4 linked regions of the Homo sapiens genome follow. The protein of the gene in region 3 interacts with the protein of the main gene of each other region in a pairwise test. Each region holds a gene or a part of one and is shown on either strand. Other genes may lie near its edges.

Region 1 (7,136 bases), on a different chromosome or scaffold from region 3:
GTCAGCTTGAAATGGTTCCTACTGACCAAATCTGGGACAATTTGGTCATTAAAAAGAAAGACGACTGTAACTGGTTATAAAACAAGGAATAAATTAAAACCCATGAGAGTCTGAAGTGGTATCATTCACCCCTGCCCCAAAAAACATCATTGGGGGTGGCTATTTCTCCAGCTCTTTACTATGAATATTGAAAAGTAAAGAGATTAAATTTAACATTTAATTTGCATTTTGGGGAAGAACAATAGTTTACCTGCACTTAATGAAGGAAATCTCTTCCTTACAGAGAACCTCCAATAACTGATTTAAGCAAAAGTCATCATGGGTGCTAAAAACCACTAAGCAAAAGATTGTCAGAAACTGGGTATTTGCTTAGTGTCCAAGTTTTACCCCAAGATTACATATTAATCACAAACTGGCAAACCACACCTTTACAACAGATCAGTAGTCAGCACTTTAATCAAATGGTTACATTTAGCATCATTAATAGTGTGGGAATCTGACATTGTGTGCCTCCTATATTATGCAACAGGAGGTACACAGCATCACCTATTAAATATTCTTGCCAAAGGAAGTTTTACTTTAAGCTAATTAAGCCTTCCTTTACACCTAACTTCCAGTTAATAGGAAATTCAGGGAGAAAGAGGAATAAACGAAATGACATTAGGAGGGCACAAATCCAGAATGTGGGTATATTTTACAAGACAACTGGTTTGGTCAATTACGTGTCAGAAAAAAAGAAGGGAGGGAATATTCATCCTATTTAATTTCCCCTGCAAAAAGAAGAGGGGATGGATACTCTTCATTTTACAAAATGACTAAAGACTTAATCACCAAATGCAATCAATGCATGAATCTTGACTGACTACAACTGGGGGCAGAACCCTCAAAGACACTTTGGAACAACTGAGGAATTTTGAAGATGGAGTTGTTAATTTTGATAGGCATTAATAATGATACTGGGGTTAGTAGGAGAATGTCCCTATTTTTAGGAAACACATGCCGAAATATTTGAGGATTACAGTGTTTGCAGCTTACTTTCAAATAATTACACACATACAGAGAAAGACAGGAAACAATATGGCAAAAATGCTAATCACTGAGTTGGTTATTCATTGCATTGATTAGCATTTTTATTCATTGCATGAATAACCGATCACAATTGTATAGAACGAACCTCTATACGACTAAAATTTTTCATAACAAAGTTAATAAAATTGTACTTCTATTGAGAAGTACGGTAGAAAGTACACGAAAGTACATCTATACTGGAATTATATTTGGGTTGAAATCTAAACTATCTTACTAGTTGTGTGCCCTAAGGCAAGTTGTAATTCTTCGTATCACTAAGTTTGTCACTTCTATAAAATTCAAGTAATAATATCTGCATCATTAGGTTGTTCTGAGAATTAAATAATTACAAATGCAAAAATGCCAAGCAGTACTGCACAAAATGAATAATCTGGTTTTCATAATTAATCAGTACATTACTAATAATCCTAAAATACAAAACTAAAGGACTACGTTCATTATATTCACATTCTATGATAAGGGGAAACTACATTAGGTAAAATTATTATTAATCCACTGACAGTCCAAGTGAAGTAATGGGGGAAATGAAGATTTATACAGTATTTTTTAAACCCAAGAATTCCAACTGAACACCTAGAGAAAAGGAAATCAAAATCGTGCAGCTTGCTTCCGGTATCAGCCGATCTCCAAATAAAGCATTAAGAAAATAAGTGGAAGTTATGGAGAATTTCTTCCTGACTTCAAGAGATTATCTACTTACACGCTGAAAAAGAAATTAAGTTTTTGTCTTCATTTTTGTAAGTTCCAAAAAAAAGCACACAATTACGGGGTTTTATTGTAAATTCTGCTTGGATTCATAGAACTCACATGGACGCAATTTCCTTTTAATCAGTTCTAACGTACCTGTCATTTCTCGAGGTAACCCCTTTTTCTGATTAGGCCAGCAATAAAACGACTAGATGCAGAGTGATCCTCAGGAAGGAAAGGAAAAGAGGTGTGTGTGTGTGTGTATGTGTGTGTGTGTTTGTGTGTGTGTATATATATATATATATATTTTTTTAAAGAAGTGCCATCTTTTTCTTTCTGTACCAGAGAAAAAGCAGAAGGGGAAAGGAGGAAAAAAAACAGGTCTGAGCCTCCCGGGTTCGACCAGGTGAGAGGTGGCAACACTCCGGCCGCTCCGGGTTAGGGTGTTGGGCAAATGGGCGTGCAAAGGACGGGCAGCTCCCTGGAAGGTCGGGGTAACTGCTCCGGGACCGCGGGGCCCAAGGCCGGTCTCCTCCCAGAAGGATTAAATGCCACCGAGGGGATCCCGTGGGGTGTCTCCCGGCGCGGACTAGGCTGACAGACCCGGCTCTCCGCTCCCTTCGGCGCCAGGTGGGGGCCACGCGGTGTCAGCCACGGGCAGCGTGCAGGGGCCGTCCCCCGCGCGACCGGAGCCCGCCCTCCCCTCCCCGTTACCTGCGGGCGGCGGCGCCGGGCCCGGAGGCCTGCTGCTCCTCCTCCTTCTCCCGCCAGGCTGGGGCGGCGAGGCGGCGGCGGCGGCGGCCCGGGGGGAGGGGGCGGAGCGCGGCTCGCTGCCTCTCTCCTCCCCCGGGAGGCTCAGGGGCCCCTATCTCGGGCCGCCGCGCCTAGGCCCGTGAGCAGCCTGTGGTGGGGCATGGCGGCACAGCCACCGGCGTGCCCGCGAGTGGGAGTGCGAGGAGGCGGGGAGGGAAGCACCCCCAGCGCTCGGAGGGGCCAGAGGGGAGGAGCGAGGGGGCCCGGGAGCCGCGCGCTGGCGACCGTTGGGGACGGTTGGCCGAGGGCAGGCGGTTGTTTGGGGAGCGCGGCGACGGCTCGCGTGTTCCCAGCGGGGCGGGGTGGGGAAGGGGAAGGGGACTGAGGGGAGGGGAGGGGGAGGTTGGGAGGGAGCCGCCGCCGCGCGCGTGCGGCCGGCGCCGCCGCCGTTGCCGCTCCGCTCACTCCAGCCTGTTTGGGGGCACTTTGTTTGTGTCCCACAATGCTCTGCGCCGGCGGCCTGGCTGGGGAAGGGGAGGAGAAGGGGGCGGGGCGGAGCGCGCTCGGGGGCGGGGCTCGGGGCGGGGAAGGAAACGTGATGATTGCGCAAGCGCAGAAAATGGGCCCTCTTGGCCGTCGGGACTTGTACTGTTGGTGACTCCGTCTCCTTAGACGGTGGAGCCTGCGTGACCCAGAAAGGCCGTGAGTCTTGACACTGTATTTTTGCATATGTGCGCACATGTGCCGATTTACATTCACATGCCCCATAAGCCCTGTCCCATTTGTCCTTCCTCTAAGCCGTCCTCTTACCCAGTTCCCCTCTCACACCTGAGAAGCATTTCTCCGCAGGAGTCACATTTATAGCATTATTTTTTTCTTCGAACTAAAAACATAACTCCTATTTTCTCGGGTAGTTTTTGTAGGGAGGTCGAAATAGAAACACTTCAGCCCCTCTTCGGCGAGGGAGGTTAGTTGGTAAGGTGCCCATTGTTCACCCATGGAAACAGGCCTGCCAAGGGCCGCCCCGCAGACAGGTGAGCCCGCGCCCCCGTCCTGGGCGGACTGCGACATGCGGCGGGTGTCTGGATTGCGTGGCTCCTCGGGCCTCCTCGCAGTGCTTGCTCTCTTCCGTTCTAGCACTTGCCTCGGTGACCTGGCAGGACGTGCGGTTCTTGAGATGAGTGGAGAAACGGACTCCCAGGTCCCTCTCGTTCTTCCAACACAGGGACAGCTAGAGCTGCTCCAAAAATATACCCTACTTCTTCCACAACCGTGAATCTGTCATTTTTACTGCACCATCACTTACTTCCTGGCCTTCCCGGAGGAAGTGTGCGGGCCTCCCCGAAGTAACCGGTACCGCCCGGGGGGTTTTGAAGTTCTTGGTCAACTGCAAAATCAATCAACCTAGTTAACTCCTAGGGCCCTAAGTCTTGGCTTCCCCTGGCCAGGCGGGCGAGCGCTCTCCACACCGCCCCCGGAGGTCATAGGGGTTCCCGGGACTGCAGGCGGCAGCGCCCCAGGTGCCTGGGGGCGGGCGGGGTGCGGGCAGGTGCTCCTTGGGCGCTTTCTGTTTTCCCACGCCTCCAGTTTGCAAACCGAAAGACTTCTTTCCAGAGGGTTTTGTGCAAGGTGGGTGGACGTCCCGCTGAAGTAGAGTGGATTTTCCTTTTGAAACACTTGGCAACATCTCACATTAATTCACTCTGAGAGACAAGCAGCCAAGCACCTGAACACCCTGACACTTGCAATCTTCTTTAGGAATAAAGGCAATAAAAACAACTTCTGTTTTTATAGTCCTTCGCAGTTTCCAACAAGTTTTCAAGCATGTATAATGTTATCTAATCCTTACGGCAACTGTAATTCACAGGTTTTATCACAGGTTTCTATTATTATTCCCACTATCATTCTTATTATTCCCATTTCAGAGATGAGAAAAATCAGAAAGATGCGAACTAGGCCCAGAAACTTTTGCACTAAGTTTTGAAGAGGGGAAGGGAAAGAAGGCGGAATGCTTACCTGGGAGAGGACTGGCGGCCACAGAGCAGGGCTCAGGAAAGGGCATGAGCTGGGGCCCTGGTGAGGAATGTGTGAGAATGTATGTAGGTGGTAAGCAACTGGACAAGAATCAGGGTGGAAATGAAGTAGTCAAATCCTATCTACCTCTCCTAGTGCCTTTAACAGGATAGTCAATAAAAGACCATGAGGCAAGTCTTTTCTAAGTGCTTCTCCAGGGGCTGTGGTGGCAGCTCCTCAACTACTACACTGACACAAAAATTTGCTTTCCTTTGTAGTACAACTTGAAGTCAGGTAGAGGAATGCCTCTAGCTTTGTTATTTTTGCTCAGAATTGCCCTAGCTTTTCAGGGTCTTTTGTGGTTCCATACAAATTTTAGGATTTTTTTTTCTAGTTCTGTGATGAGTGTCATTGATATTTTGGTAGGGATTGTACTGTACCTGTAGGTGGCTTTGGGTAGTGTGGATATTTTAACAATATTAATTCTTTCAATTCATGAGCGTGAGATATCTTTCCTTTTTTTTTTTTTTTTTTTTTTGTTCTCTTCATTTTCTTTCATCAATGTGTACACTTTTCCGGGTAGAGATTTTTCACTTCCTTGCTTACATTTATTGCTAGGTATTTTATTTTGCTTTTTTGTAGCTATTGTGAATGAGATTGTTTTCTTGATTTCTTTTTCAGATTGATGGCTGTTAGCATATAGAAAATCAACTGTGCTGGGTGTGGTGGCTCACGCCTGTAATCCCAACACTTTGGGAGTCCAAGGCAGGCAGATCACGAGGTCAGGAGTTCAAGACCAGCCTGGCCAACATAGTGAAACCCCATCTCTACTAAAAATACAAAAAAGTTAGCTGGGAATGGTGGCACGCGCCCGTAGTCCCAGCTACTTGGGAGGCTGAGGTGGGGAATCACTTGAACCCAGGGGGTGGAGGTTACAGTGAGTCGAGATCGTGCCACTCCAGCCTGGCGACAGAGCAAGACTCCATCTCCAAAAAAAAAGAAAAGAAAAGAAAATCAATTGATTTTTGTATCCTTCAACTTAACTGAATTCGTTCATCAAAGTTCTGAGAGATGGAGTCTTTAGGTTTTTCTAAATATAAGAACAAGTCATCTGCAAACAAGGATAATTTGACTTCTTCCTTTCCAATTCAGTTGCCCTTTATTTCTTTCTCTTGCCTAATTGCTCAGGTGAGGACTTCCAGAAATATATTGAATAGGAGTGGTGAAAGTGGGTATCCTTGTCTTGTTCCAGATCTTAGTGGAAAGGCTTTCAATGTTTTCCTGTTCAGTGTGATATTAGCTGCGGGTTTGTCATATATGGCTTTTATCATTTAAAAACTTTTCTTCCCTTAGATTATTCCCTTGTCTCCTCTGCCTTTTCCACTTAAAAAATTTTTTTTTGGAGACAGGCTCTCATTGTGTTGTCCAAGAGTGCAGTGGTGCAATCACAGCTAAATACAGTCTCAAACTCCTGGGCACAAGCGTCCTCTGGCCTCAGCTTTCCAAATAGCTAGGACTACAAGTGCGCCACTGTGCCTGGCTAATTTTAAAAATTTTTTGTAGAGATGGGTCTTGCTATGTGAACTTGGGCTCAAGTGATCCTCCTGAAGTGCTGGGATTACAGGCATAAGCTACCATACCTGAGCCCTTTCCTGCTTTTCTTTCTCATTTAACATTTAAATATTTTATCATCCTTCCACTCCACCCCCACCTCAGGTCTGAAGAATTTATTAACGAACAAATGACCGTGAGGCCCTTCAGAGCTCAATGCTAGATGCTTGGAGAGGGTGTGAGAAAATCTCAAAGAAGATTAACTTTGCAGGAGCCCTCTTGTCTGCTTTGGCTCTGGGCAGGGTCAGTTTCTGTGGCTTCTGCAGCCTCCCACCTTTTTCCTTCTTGAGCTGGTAGAGACTTGCCTCTGGGTTGCTGGAATATACACACCTTTCTTTGACACTAGGTTAAATAATACTGCTGGGAGGATTTTGTGAAATCAGAATCCTGTACACAGGTGAAAAAAACAAATGTAGACAGTATGAGGAACCTTTAATTATTAACTTGGTGTGGATGATTCTGAGGAATTCAAATTCCAGGCAAATTCCAGGAGTTATATTTCAGCCACGAGCTCTTTGGGGGAATAAATTCTGCAAAAGATGGCACTTCCTTGTGGAAGACCATTATAACTGAATGGAAACTTAGTTATTTAGTCCAAAAGCATTAGCATTAAGGCATGAATCCTTTCTACCCGACCTTGCCTCCTTATTAGATTAGATTATACAACTACATATATAAAAAATTAATCTCACTCTCTTACCCTAAAATTTATACCTCTTCTAGTGTTCACATTTTACCATTCACCCAGTGAAGCAGGGTGACTTTGCTACTTTACTACTGTATCTCAATTCCAATCCATCAACAAGTCCTGTTGAATGTGTCCCTCTCCACTGCCACCGTCCTAAAATAAGATGATACTAGCTTGTGCCTGGAGAATTATAATACCACTCACGTGGTTTCCCAAATGCACTCTCCCTTTTCCTCATTCTCTACATGGTCGCCAGAGTTGCAATGCATAGCAGTGATGTCAGCCAACAATGGCT
Region 2 (7,607 bases), on a different chromosome or scaffold from region 3:
GCTGGTCTAGAACTTCTGGCCTCAAGCGATCTTCCCACCTCTACCTCCCAAAATGCTGGGATTATAGGCGTGAGCCACAGAGCCCAGCCTAGTTATAATAATGTTAATACTAAGCATTCGTTTAGCAAAAATTGCTATGATGGAACTATACTGGAAGATTGGAAACAAGAAGGGTAGGTAAAGAACTAAATCCTTACTGTGACAAGAAGTTAAGAGGTATGTCTAAGATGTTGAATTGATGTAAACAGTATAAATATACAATTTAGGAATATACAGTTGGTGGGCGCAGCGGCTCACGCCTATAATCCCAGCACTTTGGGAGGCTGAGGTGGGCAGACCACTATGTCAAGAGATCGAGACCATCCTGGCCAACATGGTGAAGCCCCATCTCTACTAAAAATATAAAAATTAGCTGGGCATGGTGATGCACACCTGTAGTCCCAGGTACTTGGGAGGCAGAGACAGGAGAATCGCTTGAACCCAGGAAGTGGAGGCTGCAGTGAGCCAAGATTGCACCACTGCACTCCAGCCTGGGTGACAGAGCGAGACTCCATCTCAAAAAAAAAAAACAAAAACCAAACAGTTAAATCCCAGAAGTAAAACCTAAAAGTTTACACAGAGAAGCCTGGTTTGGGAGGGGGAAGAGGGACACAGGGAATATGAGTGGTTACTGAGGAGTTGGGCAGCCTATTGCTATTTTTTGGTAGCACTTTTAGTACTATTTGAATTTTAAAACTACATATTACTGTGGTATAAATACAATTTAAAGCTCAAACAAGATTCTGAACTGGCCAAAGCAAATGTCTCAACGGCTCATTCAGTTTTAAATCTCAGAAACTGGAAAAATCCCACCAGTCAATCAGACACCTGGGTTCAGCTCTAGATTTGCTGGTTAACTAACTGGTCAATGTATGCTTGATCACATGACTTAACCACTGTTCCTCCATTTTTTCATCTGTAAAAGTAGGTTATAATCTCTCTCATCTGTGAAAAAGCTCTCTGAGCTACAAATAAGTGGAATTAACCATCCTCTAGCATTCTATAGCTAAATATATTGAGGGCTGGGCAGGGCCAGGCATTCTGATGCTTACGCTAGGGGAAGATCTTTGAACACCTGACTTCCCTGGGAGACCAAGAGCGCCACACAGTGACTTGAAAGGGCCAGGACTGCCCTGTAACATGGATGCCCACAATGCAGGGTCTCTATCCTGCATCCCCTGCCCTGCTAAGGGGAAAAGTCGTTCAGAGCGGGCCACACTGGAAAAAGAGCAGGCCAGGTCCCAACATAGGAATTTATCTCACATCAAACCTCCCAGAAGGTTAATTATAAAAAGGATTTTAATTCTTTGAGGAACTTTTCTTATATGAATTATGTTTTTTAAAAGTAGACAAATTAAACTCTACTTGAGCAAAGAACTGTTTTCAAAGAGGGCACCCCCATAACCAGAATAGGTCCAGAGCAATTCTCAGGCTGCCACCTGGTGGGATAACATTTATGGACAGGAAAAGGAAAGTGATGTACAGAAAAGCAAATGAGGTAGAGAAATAGCTGGATTCCATACAGCCTGGCGTTTGCCTTCTTTGAACAGGGTTTCAAAGGCTGACCACCTGTGACGGCCTGAAAATCAGCTGCTGTGATTGTCTGAGACTCAGGTACTTATAACAGTAGGTTACAGTCTGTTTACACATCTACTTAGGTTACAGTTCACTAAGTACAGAGAAACTTTTAGGCTAAACTTAAAATATTCAAGGAGGCAGCGTTAGGCTATACTTAACACCTACTTAGCACAGGTAACTAGAAGTGGCTAAAACAGAAACGAATTCTTGAATAACTGAGTGAATGCCACACTTAGAAAAGGTTGTTTTATGCAGCTAATTATAGAATCACGGACAAGAACTGAAAGAGTTGCTGCCTGAACTTTCCACTCGAGGTCTGTGTTAGAATTTAGGAAACGCCACCCTGATAAATGACTGCAAAAGACAAGAATGCACCATCCCCAAACATGCCACCCTGGCATATTGATGACTTTGAGCTATAAGTAACAGAACCAAACAACACAGGATAACTTATTCAGCTACCCCTCAACTGCCTAAAATAAAGTATGACTGCTTTTTTTCCTTTTGTTCTTATTATTTTTCGACTCGCCTGTTGTAAACAGAAATTTACACCTATAAAGGAAATTTTCTGTAGTAAATGTATCTGTATCAGGAAGACAGCTGCTTGGGGGCAACTTTTATCGCCTGAGCGCCTCATCGGGATAACAAAGCAACCTTTATTCACCATACATTTCCCCCATCACCCTTCCAAAAGGTCTCCACCACGCCCCAAAAGGCCCACGCCCCTATTCCCTGGCCCTTCTTTGTCTCCCACTTTTGTGGCCCTCTAGTGCACGGGTACATAATTAAAAGTTTTTCTCCTGTTAATCTGTCTTATGACAATTTAATTTGTGGCCCAGCTTAAGAACTTAGAAGGGTAGAGGGAAACCATATTTCCTTCCCCTACATTTGAATCTTCTTTACACCACACTCTCCCGGGTCATTTGGACTCTCCTGGAACCCCCTGGAGCTAGGGAAGCGCAGGGCCTCCCAAGTCAGATTCTGCTTGGTGCCGAGCGGCAGTTGGCTCCCTGAACGCCCCGCCAGGAGGATGGACTTCAAGTCCTTGACCGCGGCGCCCGACATCGGTCGCCCGCACCAGGCTCCTGCCGGGCCCAGCCCCCCTGCCTGCTCGCGGGGGCTCGGAGGACCCGGCCTAGCGCCCACCGCGGCGTCCCGCGCCCCGGGCCCCTGGCTTCAGAAGACTGGCCGCGCGCGGACGGCAGCTCGGGACTCACAAGGACTCCAGGTGCTTGAGCTGCTGCAGCTGCTGCGCGTCGTGTCGCCGCCGCTTCTGCTCCCGACGTCGCTGCAGCTCCTGCTCCGGCGGCTCACGCGGCCGCCGCGCGCCCGCAGCCCCCACGTCCTCGCGCCCAGGCCGGGACGACATGTCAGCCCCCGCAGCGCCGCTCGGGCAACCCCCGCGGCGCGGCTCCGGCGGCGGCGGCGGCGGCGGCGGCAGCCAAGAGAGCACTTCCTCCGCGCGGCGGTCGCGGGGCTTCGCAGCGCCCCCTCCCGCCGCCGCCCCGCAACTCACCCCGGCGGCCCCGAAGTCTCAGCCTCGGCCACCCGATCCCCGCCTCCCCGCGTCGGGCCCCAAGTCAGGGGCTCCGGGTCTCGGGCCCAGCCGCCAGGCGGGCTGCTGCGGGTGGGTGGGGAGCGCCGCCTAGCTGGAGCCGAAGCGGGGCGAGGCGCTAGTTGGGAGCCTGGAGGTTCCCGCCCGGCCACACCCACCTCAGGTATACTAGCAACAGTCACATAGGGATGAGCAGATGAAATGTATTCATAAAAAAATGTTCAAATTAGCCAGGCGTGGTGGCGGGCGCCAGTAGTCCCAGCTACTTGGGTGGCTGAGGCAGGAGAATTGCTTGAACCCAGGAGGCAGAGGTTGCAGTGAGCCGAGATGGTGCCCCTGCACTCCAGTCTGGGCGAAAAAGCGAGATTGTCTCTCAGAAAAAAAAAAAAAAAAGTGTTCAAAAAGTGAAATGTATAAACATATAATTATGTTCGGTAATAGTGTGCACCCAGCTTTATAACTGCGGTCATCTGATATACCATGAGAGACAACCTAACTCTTTTGACAGGATGGGTCACCATGACGTCACCACTGTGCCAGTCACCCGAGGAGCCAAGATCCTGAGAAATTTCATCTTTCACAAATGCAGATGTACAGAAAAGACACTTATTTATTTATCGAGGAAATTTCTACATTTTTGCATATATGTAGAATGCTTACACAGTCACCATTGTAATAATGAGCTTTGATTGAGTCATATTTGCAAAAAATGCATAAAACAAATTTGAACTCTCTAAAAGTCTTTATATAGTTGATGCCTCCAGTATTAGAAATGATGTTAAGATGTAATACATAGCATAGTGAATTGTAAAACATAATGCTGACAATTTACAATAATGAAAAAGCTAAAAGAGAAAATAGAAAAACGAAAGCAAACTAAAAAGAAAATTCAACATAGAAAAAGTGTATTGCAGGGATAGATTATGGGCAATTGCATGGCGATTGTCCACATGAACTGCCCAACTTTTATGATGATTAACATATTTTGAAGTCTTGCATCATGATGAATAGCTTTTTTTTTTTTCTTTTAGGACATGGCTCTCCTCGATGATACAGTCTCATTAATTTTCTATGTGATACTGCTCTTTCCAAAATTCTTTTTAACTTTTTAAAGTTTTTTATTTTGTAGAGACGGGGTCTCGCTATGCTGCTTAGGCTGGCCTTGAACTCCTGGCCTCAAGCAATCCTCCTGCCATAGCCTCCCAAAACACTGGGATTACAGGTGGGAATCACTGCACCTGACTATGAAATTATTTTGTGATTTGATATTCTCTGACTTCTCTTTGTGCTTTCTTTCTGTTGTACCCTCCTGTCCATGAACCCCTCTGTTTTTCATTTTATTCTTCTGCCCCCTCCTAAGACACCAGAGATTCATTCTTGAGGCCAGTCAAGCAGCCTTGGTGTTGGCCCACTGGTGGGGCAGCTGCAGTTGGTCCTTAGTCTGTGCTACTGGACAGGTTTTAAACCTTTCAGAATGGAGCAACTAAAAAAAGAATAGATTTTCTCCTGCTTGTATTGATCACCCTTCACAGTGTAATCTTGACACCATTGTTTTGCTGCTAAGGTGTATTTTTACAAGCTCTTATCTTACCAGTGACCTTTCCCCACTGGGGAGATGAGGAGAGGAAAAAAGTAGGAGAAGGGAAAGATCACATGGCTAGATTAGAGAGTACAATGCAAAATCTTTCTTTTTTTCCTACCCAAAATACAAGTCTTCAAGGAACTCTCATGGTGAAGTGGACCCTCAGGCGTGCATGTCTATGGTCTTCTGCAGCGCAGTAGAAACATGAGAATCCCTTTGGTCATGCACTAAAAACAGCTGTTAAAATTACTTCTAGGGCCAGGCATGGTGGCTTGTGCCTGTTGTCCTAGGTATTTGTGGAGCTTAGGTGGGAGGATTGCATGAACCCAGGAGGTGGAGGCTACAGTGAGCCATGATCGTGTCACTGCACTCCAGCCTGAGTGACAGAGTGAGCCCCTGTCTCAAAAAAAGAAAAATTATTTCTATCCATCAATAGTTGCTAACCAGTAGGATCGGAGGGAAAATTGCAACGTGCTTTACTTTAGGCTTGCAGGTACGAAAGACTGAGGGAGGAAGGTCAGACACCAAACTTAATTGGTATTCTGGGGCAAATATTTGGCAACTGAGTTGACATTTCTCCTTCTCTTCCTTGCTACCAGCTTTGATTTTGTTCAGGAATCATACAGGAAGCTGGTTAGAGAGTGGAGGCCTCTTCATGCCTCTCTAGAGGTGAGTCTTGACTTGTCTTAAGCCAGTCATTAGTAATTTTGTTCTCGTTTCCACTGATTGTTTTAGCAATGGACCTGTGGTGCAATTTTAGCCAATGAGGTATGAGGAGAGGTCGGATGGAGGTGGCTTTCAGGGTAAGGTTGTCTTTGCTCTTAATAAATGATGCTTGGGAGTGTCAAAGATCCCCTTTCTGCCTCCAGATGTTGTTGCCTGCAACCCCCAGAGGATGGCAGAGGACAGAAGGAGACCCCTGGGTCCTTGGGGATGTGATAGAGACATTTGATCAACCAGTCCTGGTGTTGCTACCTATCCATACTTCTCATTCTGGGAGATAGTACATTTCTTTATTATTGAAGTGATTTTGAGTTGGGTCTTCTATTACTCACAGATAAATATGATTCTTTACATTTATATAGTGCCATGCAGATCTCCCCCTGCCCCCATATGTTCTCCCAGTTGATTTTACAGAAACCCTATGGGGGCATGCAAGACAATGTAAGATAAGGAAATTGAGGCTCAGAAGGAGAGTGTGGCCCTGCAACCAAAATGGTCTGATTTCTAGTCCAGAGTTTTTCATCAACCCTCATGAATTTAGGTGTGTGGGAATAGTGGGAGTGGGAGAATCTCTTGGAAACCCTTGGAGAATCTCTTGGTAAAGAAGAGGATAGGAAGCTGCTGGAAACAAATTTCCCTGATGTCCCATTGGCCTCAAATCGGCTCAGATGGACTTTTGGGGATGTTTTTTCATTCAATTTATTTATTTAATAATTAAAAACAATACAGATGGGGCCCTGCTATGTTGATGGGGGTGAGGAGGTATTTTTCCTCAGCTGGCCTTTTCCCTCCCCTCCCCTCCCCTTCCCTTCATTTTTTTGAGACAGGGTCTCACTCTATTGGCCAGGCTGGAGTGCAGTGGTACGATCTCTGCTCACTGCAACCTCCGCCTCCCAGGTTCAAGGGACTCTCGTGTCTCAGCCTTTCAGGTAGCTGGGACCACAGGCGTGCGCCACCACGCTGGGCTAATTTTTGTATTTTTAGCAGAGACGGGGTTTCACCATGTTGGCCAGGCTAGTCTCGAACTCCTGACCTCAACTGATCTGACTAAGGCTGGTCATTTCTTTAGCCATCCTGTGTGTGCCAAGCAAAAGTTAACAACTGGCATAGCTTAGCCTCCAGGGTTTACTGTTCTCAAAACCACAGTAGTTTTCTGATTCACAAAACTGCCTTTATTTCAGACTCAATGAAAGGTGGAAACCTTTTTTTTAGGGCCTGGCCTTAGTGGATTACGTTGGATTTTACCATTAACACTTGAGGTTCCTGTACTGTCTGAGGGGCATTTGACAGAACCTGGTTTACTGACTTTGATTCAGACCAGTCCTTTTTTCAGATCCCTTTCTCCCCGCTCTTCCATGCTGCTTCCCATGCCCACCTTGGCCTCAGATTTTGCTGTTCCTCTCATTGTGTCCTTCTGTCTGATTTTACCACATTTTCTGGTCCCTGCCTCTGCATTCTCTCACTGATTGTTATCTTGTTTTTCTCTCCCTGCCATCTTTCTCTCTCATTTCCCCTCTTTTTCTTATTCCGATAACCTTTCATTCCTTCTAGTCCCTGTCTCACGTTTGTGTGAAAGTTAGTTATACAAATTGGGTAATTTTTGTCATACTCAAGTAAAAGAGAATCAAGGGGTCAGGGGGGAAAAGCACTTGTGGTCACAGGACCTGCTCCAAGAATTAAATTTTCCAGAAGCCCAGCCGCTAAAATGGACTGCTGTAACTCTAAGATCAGTTTTACCTGGTAGCTGCTGAAACGGCCTGCCCTGGCTCTGCGACTGGTTTTAACTGCTGCAGTCACTCGTCTATCAGAGCTTGCCGGCTCCCAAAAGCTTGTTTAGTGCCAATGAGCTTCCTTCCTTCCTTCCTTCCTGCCTCCCTCCTTCTCTCCCTCTCTCCCTCCCTTTCTCTCTCCTTTCTTTCCTTCCTTTCCTTTTTTTGACAGAGTCTCACTCTGTCACCAGGCTGGAGTGCAGTGGCGCAATCTTGGCTCACTGCAACCTCTGCCTCTTGGGTTAAAGTGATTCTCTTGCCCCAGCCTCCCGAGTAGCTGGGACTACAGGCGCGTGTCACCATGCCCAGCTAATTTTTGTGTTTTTTGTAGAGATGGGGTTTTACCATGTTGGCCAGGCTG
Region 3 (7,038 bases):
CGGGTGTGGTGGTACCTGCCTATAGTCCCAGCCAATTGGTAGGCTGAGGCCAGAGAATAGCTTGTGCCAGGGAGGTAGAGGTTGCAGTGAGCCATGATCATGCCACTGCACTCCAGCCTGAGCAACAGAATGAGACCCTGTCTCAAAAAAAAAGAAGAATAAAAAAGATCCTTTCAGACAAGCAAATGCTGAGGGAATTTGTTTACCAGCAGACCTGCTGTACAAGAGCTCCTGAAAGAAGTACTAAATATGAAAAGAAGGCCGGGTGTGGTGGCTCATGCCTGTAATCCCAGCACTTTGGGAGGCTGAGGCAGGCGAATCACCTGAGGTGTGGAGTTCGACACCAGTCTGGCCAACATGGTGTAACTCCATATCTACTAAAAATACAAAAATTAGCCGGTCATGGTGGTGGGTACCTGTAATCCCAGCTACTCGGGAGGCTAAGGCAGGAGAATTGCTTGAGCCAGGGAGGCAGAGGTTGCAGTGAGCAGAGATCATGCCATTGCACTCCAGCCTGGGTGACAGGGCAAGACTCCATCTCAAAAAAAAAAAAAGGCCGGGTGCAGTGGCTCACGCCTGTAATCCCAGCACTTTGGGAGGCCAAGGCAGGTGGATCACGAGGTCAGGTCAGGAGATCGAGACCATCCTGGCTAACATGGTGAAACTCTGTCTCTACTAAAAATACCAAAAAAAAATTAGCTGGGCATGGTGGCATACGCCTGTAGTCCCAGCTACTCGGGAGGCTGAGGCAGGAGAATCACTTGAACCTGGGAGGCAGAGGTTGCAGTGAGCCAAGATCACGCCATGGCACTCCAGCCTGGGCTACCCAGTGAGACTTTGTCTCAAAAAAAAAAAAAAGAAAAAGGAAAGAAAAGGCCATTACTAGCCACTACAAAAACACATTTAAGTACACAGACAAGTAACACTATAAAGCAACCACACAAACAAGTCAGCATAATAAACAGCTAACAACACAATGACAGGATCAAATACATGCATATCAATACTAACCTTGAATGTAAATGGGCTAAATGCCCCAATTAAAAGGCATAGAGTGGCAAGAGCTGGATAAAGAAATAAGACCAAATGATATGCTCCCTTTAAGACACCATTCTTGGCTGGGTGCAGTGGCTCATGCCTGTAATATCCCAGCACTTTGGGAGGCCGAGGCGAGTGGATCACTTGAGGTCAGGAGTTCGAGACCAGCCTGGCCAACATGGTGAAACCTCGTCTCTACTAAAAATAGAAAACCGCCAGGCGTGGTGGCGCGTGCCTGTAATCCCAACTATTTGGGAGGCTGAGGCAGGAGAATTGCTTGAACCTGGGGGACAGAGGTTGCAGTGAGCCGAGATTGCGCCACTGCACTCCAGCCTGGGCAACACAGCAAGACTCTGTCTCAAAAGAAAAAAAAAAGACCCATCTCAGATGCAATAACACCCACAGACTCAAAATGAAGAAATGGAGAAAAATCTACCAAGCAAATAGAAAACAGACAAAAGCAGAGTTGCAATCTTAATTTCAGACAAAACAGACTTTAAGCCAACAAAGATCAAAAAAAGACAAAGAAGTGCATTGCATAATGGTAAGGTATTCAATTCAACAAGATCTAACTAACCTAAATAAATATGCAGCCAACAGCAGCACTCAGATTCATAAAGCAAGTTCTTAGAGACCTACAAAGAGACTTAGACTCCCACACAATAACAGTGGGAGATTTCAACACCCCACTGACAGTATTAGACAGATCACTGGGGCAGAAAATTATCAAAGATATCCAGGACCTTAACTCAGCACTGGATCAACTGGACCTGATAGATATCTACAGAACTCTCCACCCAAAAACGAGAGAATATATCTCATCTGTACATGGTACATACTCTAAAAACCACCACACAATTGGACATAAAATAATCCTCAGCAGATGCAAAAGAACCAAAAGCATACCAGCCACTCTCTCAGACCACAAATCAATAAAAATAGAATTCAAAACTAAGAAAATCACTCAAACCCATACAATTACATGGAAATTAAACAACCTGCTCCCAAATTACTTTTGGGTAAATAATGAAATTAAGGCAGAAGTCAAGAAATTATTTGAAACAAATAAGAACAAAGATACAACAGACCAGAATCTCTGGGACACGGCTAGGGCAGTGTTAAGAGAAATTTACAGCACTACATGCCCACATCAAAAAGTTAGAAAGATCTCAAATTAACAACCTAACATCACAACTAAAAGAACTCACGAAGCAAAAGCCTCCAACTCCAAAGCTAGCAGAAGACAAGAAATAACCAAAGTCACAGCTGAACTCTAGAAGACTGAGACACAAAAACACCATTCAAAACATCAAGTAAGCCAGGAGCTGGTGTTTTAAAAGAATGAATAAGATAGATAGGCTGCTAGCTAGACTATTAAGAAAAGAGAGAAAACCCAAATAAACACAATTAGAAATGACAAAGGGGATATTACCATTGACCCCACAGAACTACAAATAACCCTTAGAGACTATTATTAACACTTCTATGCACACTAACTAGAAAATCTAGAAGAAATGGATAATCTCCCGGACACATATACCCTTCCAAGATGGAACCAGGGAGAAACTGAATCCCTGAACAGACCAATAATGAGCTCCAAAATTGCATCAGTAATAAATAGCCTAACAACCAAAAAAAACCTGGACCAGACGGACTCACAGCTGAATTCTATCAGACGTACAAAGAAGAGCTGGTACCATTCCTACTGAAATGATTCCAAAAAAACGGAGGAGGAGGGACTCCTCCCCTACTCATTCTATGAGGCCAGCATCATCCTGATACCAAAACCTGGCAGAGATACAACAAAAAAAGAAAACTTCAGGCCAATATCCTTGATGAACATTGATGCAAAAATCCTCAACAAAATACTAGTAAACTGAATCCAGCAGTACATCAAAAAGCTAATCCGCCACAATCAAGAAGGCTTTTATCCCTGGGATGCAAGGTTGGTTCAATACATGCAAATCAATAAACATGATTCATCACATAAATAGAACTAAAGACAGAAACTACATGATCATCTCAATAGGTGCAGAAAAGGCTTTTGATAAAATTCAACATCTCTTCATGTTAAAAACTCTCAACAAACTGGAGTTTTTTGGTTTTGTTTTTTGTTTTTTTTTGAAACAGGGTCTTGCTCTGTCGCCCAGGCTGGAGTGCGGTGGCACAATCTGGACTCACTGCAACCTCTACCTCTGGGGCTCAAGTGATCCTCCCACCTCAGCCACCCGAGTAGCTGGGATTACAGGCGCGCATCACCACGCCCGGCTAATTTTCCTATTTTTAGTAGAGCGGGAGCTACCATGCCCAGCCAACTAACTAGGTTTTGAAGGAACATACCTAAAATAATAAGAGCCATCTATGACAAATCCATAGCCAACATCATACTGAATGGGCAAAAGCTGAAAGCGTTCCCCCTGAAAACTGGCACAAGACAAAGATGCCCTCTCTCACCACTCCTATTCAATATAGTATTGGGGGCTGGGCATGGTGGCCGACGCCTGTAATCCCAACACTTAGGGAGGCCGAGGAAGGCAGATCACCTGAGGTCAGGAGTTCGATACCACCCTGACCAACATAGTGAAACCCTGTCTCGACTAAAAATACAAAAATTAGCCGGGCATGGTGGCATGCGTCTGTAATCCCAGCTACTTGGGAGGCTGAGGCTGGAGAAGCACTTGAAGCCCGGAGGTGGAGGTTGCACTGAGCCAAGCATGCCACTTGTACTACAGCCTGGGCTACAAAGTGAGACTCTGTCGAAAAAAAAAAAACACTGCTAAGAGAATAAAAAGATAAGCTACAGACTGGGGGAAAATACTTGCAAATCACCTATCTGACAGAGGACTTCTATCTGGAACACACAAAGAACTATCAAGGCTCAACTATATGAAAATAACCCAATTTAAAAATGCTAAAAAGATGCACAGAGACATTTCTCCAAAGAGGATATACAGATGACAAAGAAACATGTAAAGCAATGCTCAACATTATTAGCCATTAAGAAAATGGAATAGGCCAGGCGTGGTAGCTCACACCTGTAATCCCAGCACTTTGGGAGGCAGAGGCGGGTGGATCATCTGAGGTCAGGAGTTCGAGACCAGCCTGGCCAACATGGTGAAACCCCGTCTCTAGTAAAAATACAAAAATGAGCCAGGCCTGGTGGTGGGTGCCTGTAATCCCAGCTACTCGGGAGGCTGAGGCAGGAGAATCGCTTAAGCCTGGGAGGCAGAGGTTGCAGTGAATGGAGATAGTGCCATTGCACTCCAGCCTGGGCGACAAGAGCGAGACTGTGTCTCAAAAACAAAAACAAAAACAAAACACAAAACTGTGCTGACATACTACTACATACCTATTAGGATGACAAAAATAAAACTACTGACAAAGGATGTGGGGTCATCACAACCCTCATCTGTTGCTGGCGAGAATGCAAAACAGCAATGGTTTGGCAGTTTCTTATAAAGGTAAACATACACTTACCGTGTGACCCAGCCATCCCACTCCTGGGTATTTACCCTAGAGAGATGAAAACTTATGTCCACACATAAACCTGGACACGACATGTTTCTAGCAACTCTATTGACAATTGCCAAAGATTGGAAAACCACCCAAATGTCCTTCTGTGGTTCAGAACAGAAAATAAATATAAATAAATATAAAAGGGAACAGACTTTTGATATGCAAAACAATTGGATTTGGATGAATCGCAAAGAATTAGAATGAGTTAAAGCAGCCAGACTCGAGAGCTCATGACTGTATGACGCCATTCATACGACAATCTCAGAAAGACAGCTGCGGTGACATATGATGCCACTCGTGTGACAATCACAACACGATGAAGACTCCAGTGATGGAGAACAGTTCAATGGTGGCCAGGAAATGGGGAAGAGGGGAGCATGGAGCTACAAAGGGGCAACATGAGGAGGTTTTGAGGTTCTGTGTCCTGGGTGTGGTGATGGGTACACAAATCTGTACAAGCGCTAAAATTCATTTTCAAAACGTCAACTTTCCTCATAATTAAAAAACCAAAAGAAAAAAATATACAAAACAGTAACACTGAACGCAAAATCAAAACCCAAACAACAACCACCACCAAAAAAACAAGCTGCAGGAGAACCACATCTTATGATCTCAGGTTTATAGAAAAATCAATATACTTGTTTCTGTCTGTCTACAGAATGAGGCCCGAGAGGGTGACGGTGAATAAATCCTAATCTTTCTGATTATAGGAGCCCTTTAGTTTCTTTTTTTTTTTTCTGTGCATGGTGACTGATAAGAGCCCTTCACTTTCTAACCTCATACCCTGCTTCTAATTTTTAAAAATAATGTGCATGTATGGATTCTCAGTCAGCATAAATGCTAATAAAGAAAACAAGCTTTAGCCGAGCGTGGTGGCGGGTGCCTATAATCCCGGCTACACGGGAGGCTGAGGCAGGAGAATCGCCTGAACCTGGGAGGCGGAGGTTGCAGTGAGCCGAGATCGTGTCACCACACTCTAGCCTGGGCGACAGAATGAGATTCCGTCTCAAAAAAAAAAGATAAGACAAACTCACATTTCAATGAGTGGCCCAAACTGAATCCTGCTATCTGTTACCACACAGAACGGCTCTCGGGGCTTTGCCAGTTTTAAAATGCTGTGTTTATTTCTATCGTGGAAGAGATAAAACCCTACAGAAGAAGGAAAGAAAAGAGGCCTACCAAGAGGTTGACAGACTCGATGACGTCCAAGAACACCTCATTCTTCCGATACTTGATGCCTTCGGACCGCCAGGACACCGCGTTGGTGACGGTGGCTGGTGGCCGCGGGGCCCCTGTTTCCAGCTTGTGGCCTTCCTGAGTGATGTACCTGTGGGGCCACACGCTCAGAGTGAAGGAGGTGGTACCCGCACCAACGCCACAGCTTCTGGCCTTGACATTTCGGCAGGGTTGGGTGGGGGGTACAGGGCAGGTTCTGACCGACTTGAAAATAGCCCTTGGATTTCAGCAGCTCCAGAAAAGGCAGCCTCTGGTTCACCTGGGGCTGCTTCATACAGAAAAATCTTCACAATTTCCAAAAGCCAATACACTCAAGTTATAGAGGCTGAAGTGCTCATTTTGGGGGACCAAGAAGACCATGTTGGGAAGGAAAACAAGAAGTGGGTGTGAGCTGCTTCCCGTCCCTGCTGAGCACGTGGATGGAACTGACGCCTCGGAGTGTAACCTGGTGACCCCATCCTGCTGAAGGAGCAGGAGGTGCAGCGGTTAGGAACACAGGCTTCTCTGGGAGTCTGCTTGCTTGTCCCCTGTAAAATGGGGAGACGGTATACGGGGAGGCTGTGAATCGAGTGAATGTGAAGTGCTGGGGCCCGGCCCCCAGGAAGCACTTAATTCACATTGCTTCTTATCTGAAGGGCAGGATTCCAAAGAGGGGAGATTTCGATCACAGTCTCATTTTATGACAGTAAAAACAAGGGAGGTGACTCCTTAGTAGCAAGGTACTGAAGGCATCTGTGTGGATGGAGAGTAAAGATGAGGAGCAGGAAAAGCACGGTTATGTGGGGGCGTAGAGGAGGAAACGAATTAAAACCACTAAGAGCAACTTAGTAAAAACCCGAATACTGCTGGAGGTGGGAGGCAGGTGGGGGACAACATGAACACAAATTTGCCCCTTCTGTTTCCACACCTGATGACGTCGATGTCATGACACCGCCCAGGCCTGGCCCCAGGCCCCACCCCTGCCCACTCACTCCTGCAGGATCTTGCTGTCGGTGGTCTGGGGGTAGCCGAAGTCCATGAGCTCGTCCAGCAGCTCGTAGATGATAACAAAGTTGTCCCGGATGCTCTCCTCCTCCAGCTCCTTGAAGTACTCGGAAAACACCTGTGGCGGTTGGGGAGGGAGGGAGGAATGGGAGGCAGATCATTGAGCGGACGGATGAGGAATGAATGAACGCTTGCACACATTCATTTGCCCGCTAAGTCCTACCAACAGCCTACTTCCCAGGCTCGGTGGTGTGCTACAGGGCC
Region 4 (2,552 bases), on a different chromosome or scaffold from region 3:
TGGCATCCCACACACCAGTCTGATGCCACATCTGTTCTCTTACCAACCACTGGCACCTGCATCCCTTATGCCAACAGTGCCGTGCCACTATGTTCACCCATTTTCTGTAATTATGTGGCAAATACGTTCCCTTCATCTGGAACTCTGAAGCCACTTAAGATGCAACACAGATTCCCGGTGGGCTACTAAACAGACTGCCCAGTGTAGACTCCATAATGAGTGTGGTTTCCAACAATTTTTGCATGGATTCTGAAAAATCACTATGTATTGAAAATTTATGTTCATAAGTCATTTTTCATGAACACTGATAGTTCAGCAATAACTGATTTTCACAAAGTAGATGCAGGGTTTTCAGTCACTAAATGAATTCAACAAAATGTTTACTGTGCAATACAAAGGTGATGCACGCTAATATTCTCAGAGAAATTATAGGAAACTGAGTAGCTTGAATTTGGACCAAAAATGTCAGAAAAAAGGTATTCAAGTGGAAAAAAATCCAGTGAACTCTAATAGATGGTTTATTGGAAACGCTCATAGCATCTTTTGAAAAGAACTTGACAGGTTTTATTTTAATAAGACATAGTGAAGAGGAAATGGCTTAAAAGATATCATCAATCTTTTATTTAACTAAGCACTGCCCTTCATTTTGAAGGAAATGATACAATTTCAAATCGGAACTTCCTTCTCAAGAAGTGATATAAGAATGTAACATTGATTTAACATACAACCTTCAACAAAAATAAAGTTTATACAACTCACTGGGAAATAAAATGCATGTGGAATTTATCCTGTTTGTCAACATAATTCTTCATGAGTCACAAGTATTATAGCCAAGAACAAAACAACAAAAAGCTGAATCAGTTGATAGTTACTCTGATTTAAAAAACATTTCACAAATAAGATGTAGCTTTCCAAACAAATCCATTCGATGACCATTATCACAACTATATTTTATTCTAATTTATAAAACAAAAAATGGTTAGACAAGCACATGATATCAAGAGTCTTCAACACAGTGGATTCCATTTTATTAAGAAAAAAAATAGAAAACAAGTAGTCCTTAAATTGTCTTAGCTCTCCATAGCATACGTTATATAAAATTAAAGTTTTGCTTCCAAAAATATGTTTCCATGTGGTCGTGGTGTTGTCCAGTGCTATTAGGGCCAAAGCACCAAAGACATGAGAAGTTTAACCATCGACTTGTCATTTTTCATAAAAACTAAACATTTCCTTATAGGTCTGGAGTAAAATCTTCTAGGCATTTTAGTGCTAAAAGTCACTTTAAATTAAATGTGAAATAAAAGCTACAAAAAGTATGAGTTCTTTCAATACAAAAAGTTGTGTAGCTGAAGTTGTGGGCTCCTTTGACATACATAAGCAGTTTCAATAAAATATTTGCTCAGGTAAGAAAATAGAAATTTGTCTGCTTTCATTTAGCATACGTTCCAGTCGATGTCCTGCTTATCCCTGCCAGAACTTCTGAAGAACATTAGAATCGATATTTCTTTCCTTCAAAGAGCATCCGTAATTCACAGTACAAAACAGTTCTACAGTCTTATTCCTAAGGAGAAACAAAAATTATTAAATATGTTTATTTTTTCTAAAGTGTCAAATGTAGCCACTGCCAGGGCATTAAAAACTCACTTATCCACAACACTGCCGTCTTCAGGAAAGAACCAAGAGTTGATTCATTCCCCTTTCCTGGAGCTGTTACTAGTTGGTTGTTGCTTTAAGTGTAATAACCCTAAGAAAATTCCCAATAAAAATCACTGTTCTTAAGTGTCACATATTTCACACCTCTGGTACCCTGTAGAAACGCTTGTATTACATGGGAAAGCAGCATCTGAAAAGATCTATTTCCTATTCTAGTTCATTTCCAAGCCCTGTTATTGAAAACCTCTTCTCTAGAAGAGAGAGTCACTGCTCTCTCTTAACACAGTCGCTGCTATACTTCAGCGTGACTGACCATACATCATTTTCCATTCTGGGACAGAGGAAGAAGACGGGTGGGGGAGTTGATCTGGCTAGCCCAGAGCTGGACAGTGCCATTCTATTCTTCCCTCCCACTTGTCTACACGGTGGTTATTACTACTTGCTCTGCTGCCCAGGCTGGAGTGCAGTGGTGCGATCTCGGCTCACTGCAACCTCTGCTTCCCAGCTTCAAGCAATTCTTCTGCCTCAGGCTCCCAAGTAGCAGGCATTACAGGCGCCTGCCACCACGCCCAGCTAATTTTCTGTATTTGTGGTAGAGACAGGGTTTCGCCATGTTGGCCAGGCTGGTCTCGAACTCCTAACTTCAGGTGATCTACCTGCCTCAGCCTCCCAAAGTGCTGGGATTACAGGCATGAGCCACTGTGCCCGGCCTACCTTCTATTTTCACTACTGTGTTAAGCATGAAAGAAAATCCAACTGGGTTAGATACAGCAGGTTCTCCTAAATGTCTTAACCCATGTTTATCTTGTTCTGCTATTCCATGAGCAAAGAGAATAAACACAAAGCTGTGAGAGTATTAAATATGGACACTAGATTTACATTTCCAACAAGAAATTCAT

Evidence for each region.
Region 1: the proteins of AP1M1 (region 3) and ZBTB44 interact in binary tests that used the Homo sapiens proteins (3 or more experiments, as listed by UniProt).
Region 2: the proteins of AP1M1 (region 3) and RP9 interact in binary tests that used the Homo sapiens proteins (3 or more experiments, as listed by UniProt).
Region 4: the proteins of AP1M1 (region 3) and LRATD2 interact in binary tests that used the Homo sapiens proteins (3 or more experiments, as listed by UniProt).

Annotation. Positions count from the first base shown.
Region 1 is NC_000011.10:130,311,885-130,319,020, forward strand, and holds the start of ZBTB44 (zinc finger and BTB domain-containing protein 44), read right to left. Parts: upstream 3,034-7,136; 5' UTR 2,491-3,033; exon of another isoform or gene 1,933-2,490; intron 1-1,932. UniProt on the Homo sapiens protein: May be involved in transcriptional regulation.
Region 2 is NC_000007.14:33,106,387-33,113,993, forward strand, and holds the start of RP9 (retinitis pigmentosa 9 protein), read right to left. Parts: upstream 3,019-7,607; 5' UTR 2,987-3,018; coding exon 2,835-2,986; intron 1-2,834. UniProt on the Homo sapiens protein: Is thought to be a target protein for the PIM1 kinase. May play some roles in B-cell proliferation in association with PIM1.
Region 3 is NC_000019.10:16,207,873-16,214,910, reverse strand, and holds part of AP1M1 (AP-1 complex subunit mu-1), read right to left. Parts: intron 6,893-7,038; coding exon 6,762-6,892; intron 5,882-6,761; coding exon 5,734-5,881; intron 4,552-5,733; coding exon of another isoform or gene 4,516-4,551; intron 1-4,515. UniProt on the Homo sapiens protein: Subunit of clathrin-associated adaptor protein complex 1 that plays a role in protein sorting in the trans-Golgi network (TGN) and endosomes.
Region 4 is NC_000008.11:126,551,943-126,554,494, forward strand, and holds the end of LRATD2 (protein LRATD2), read right to left. Parts: 3' UTR 501-2,552; downstream 1-500.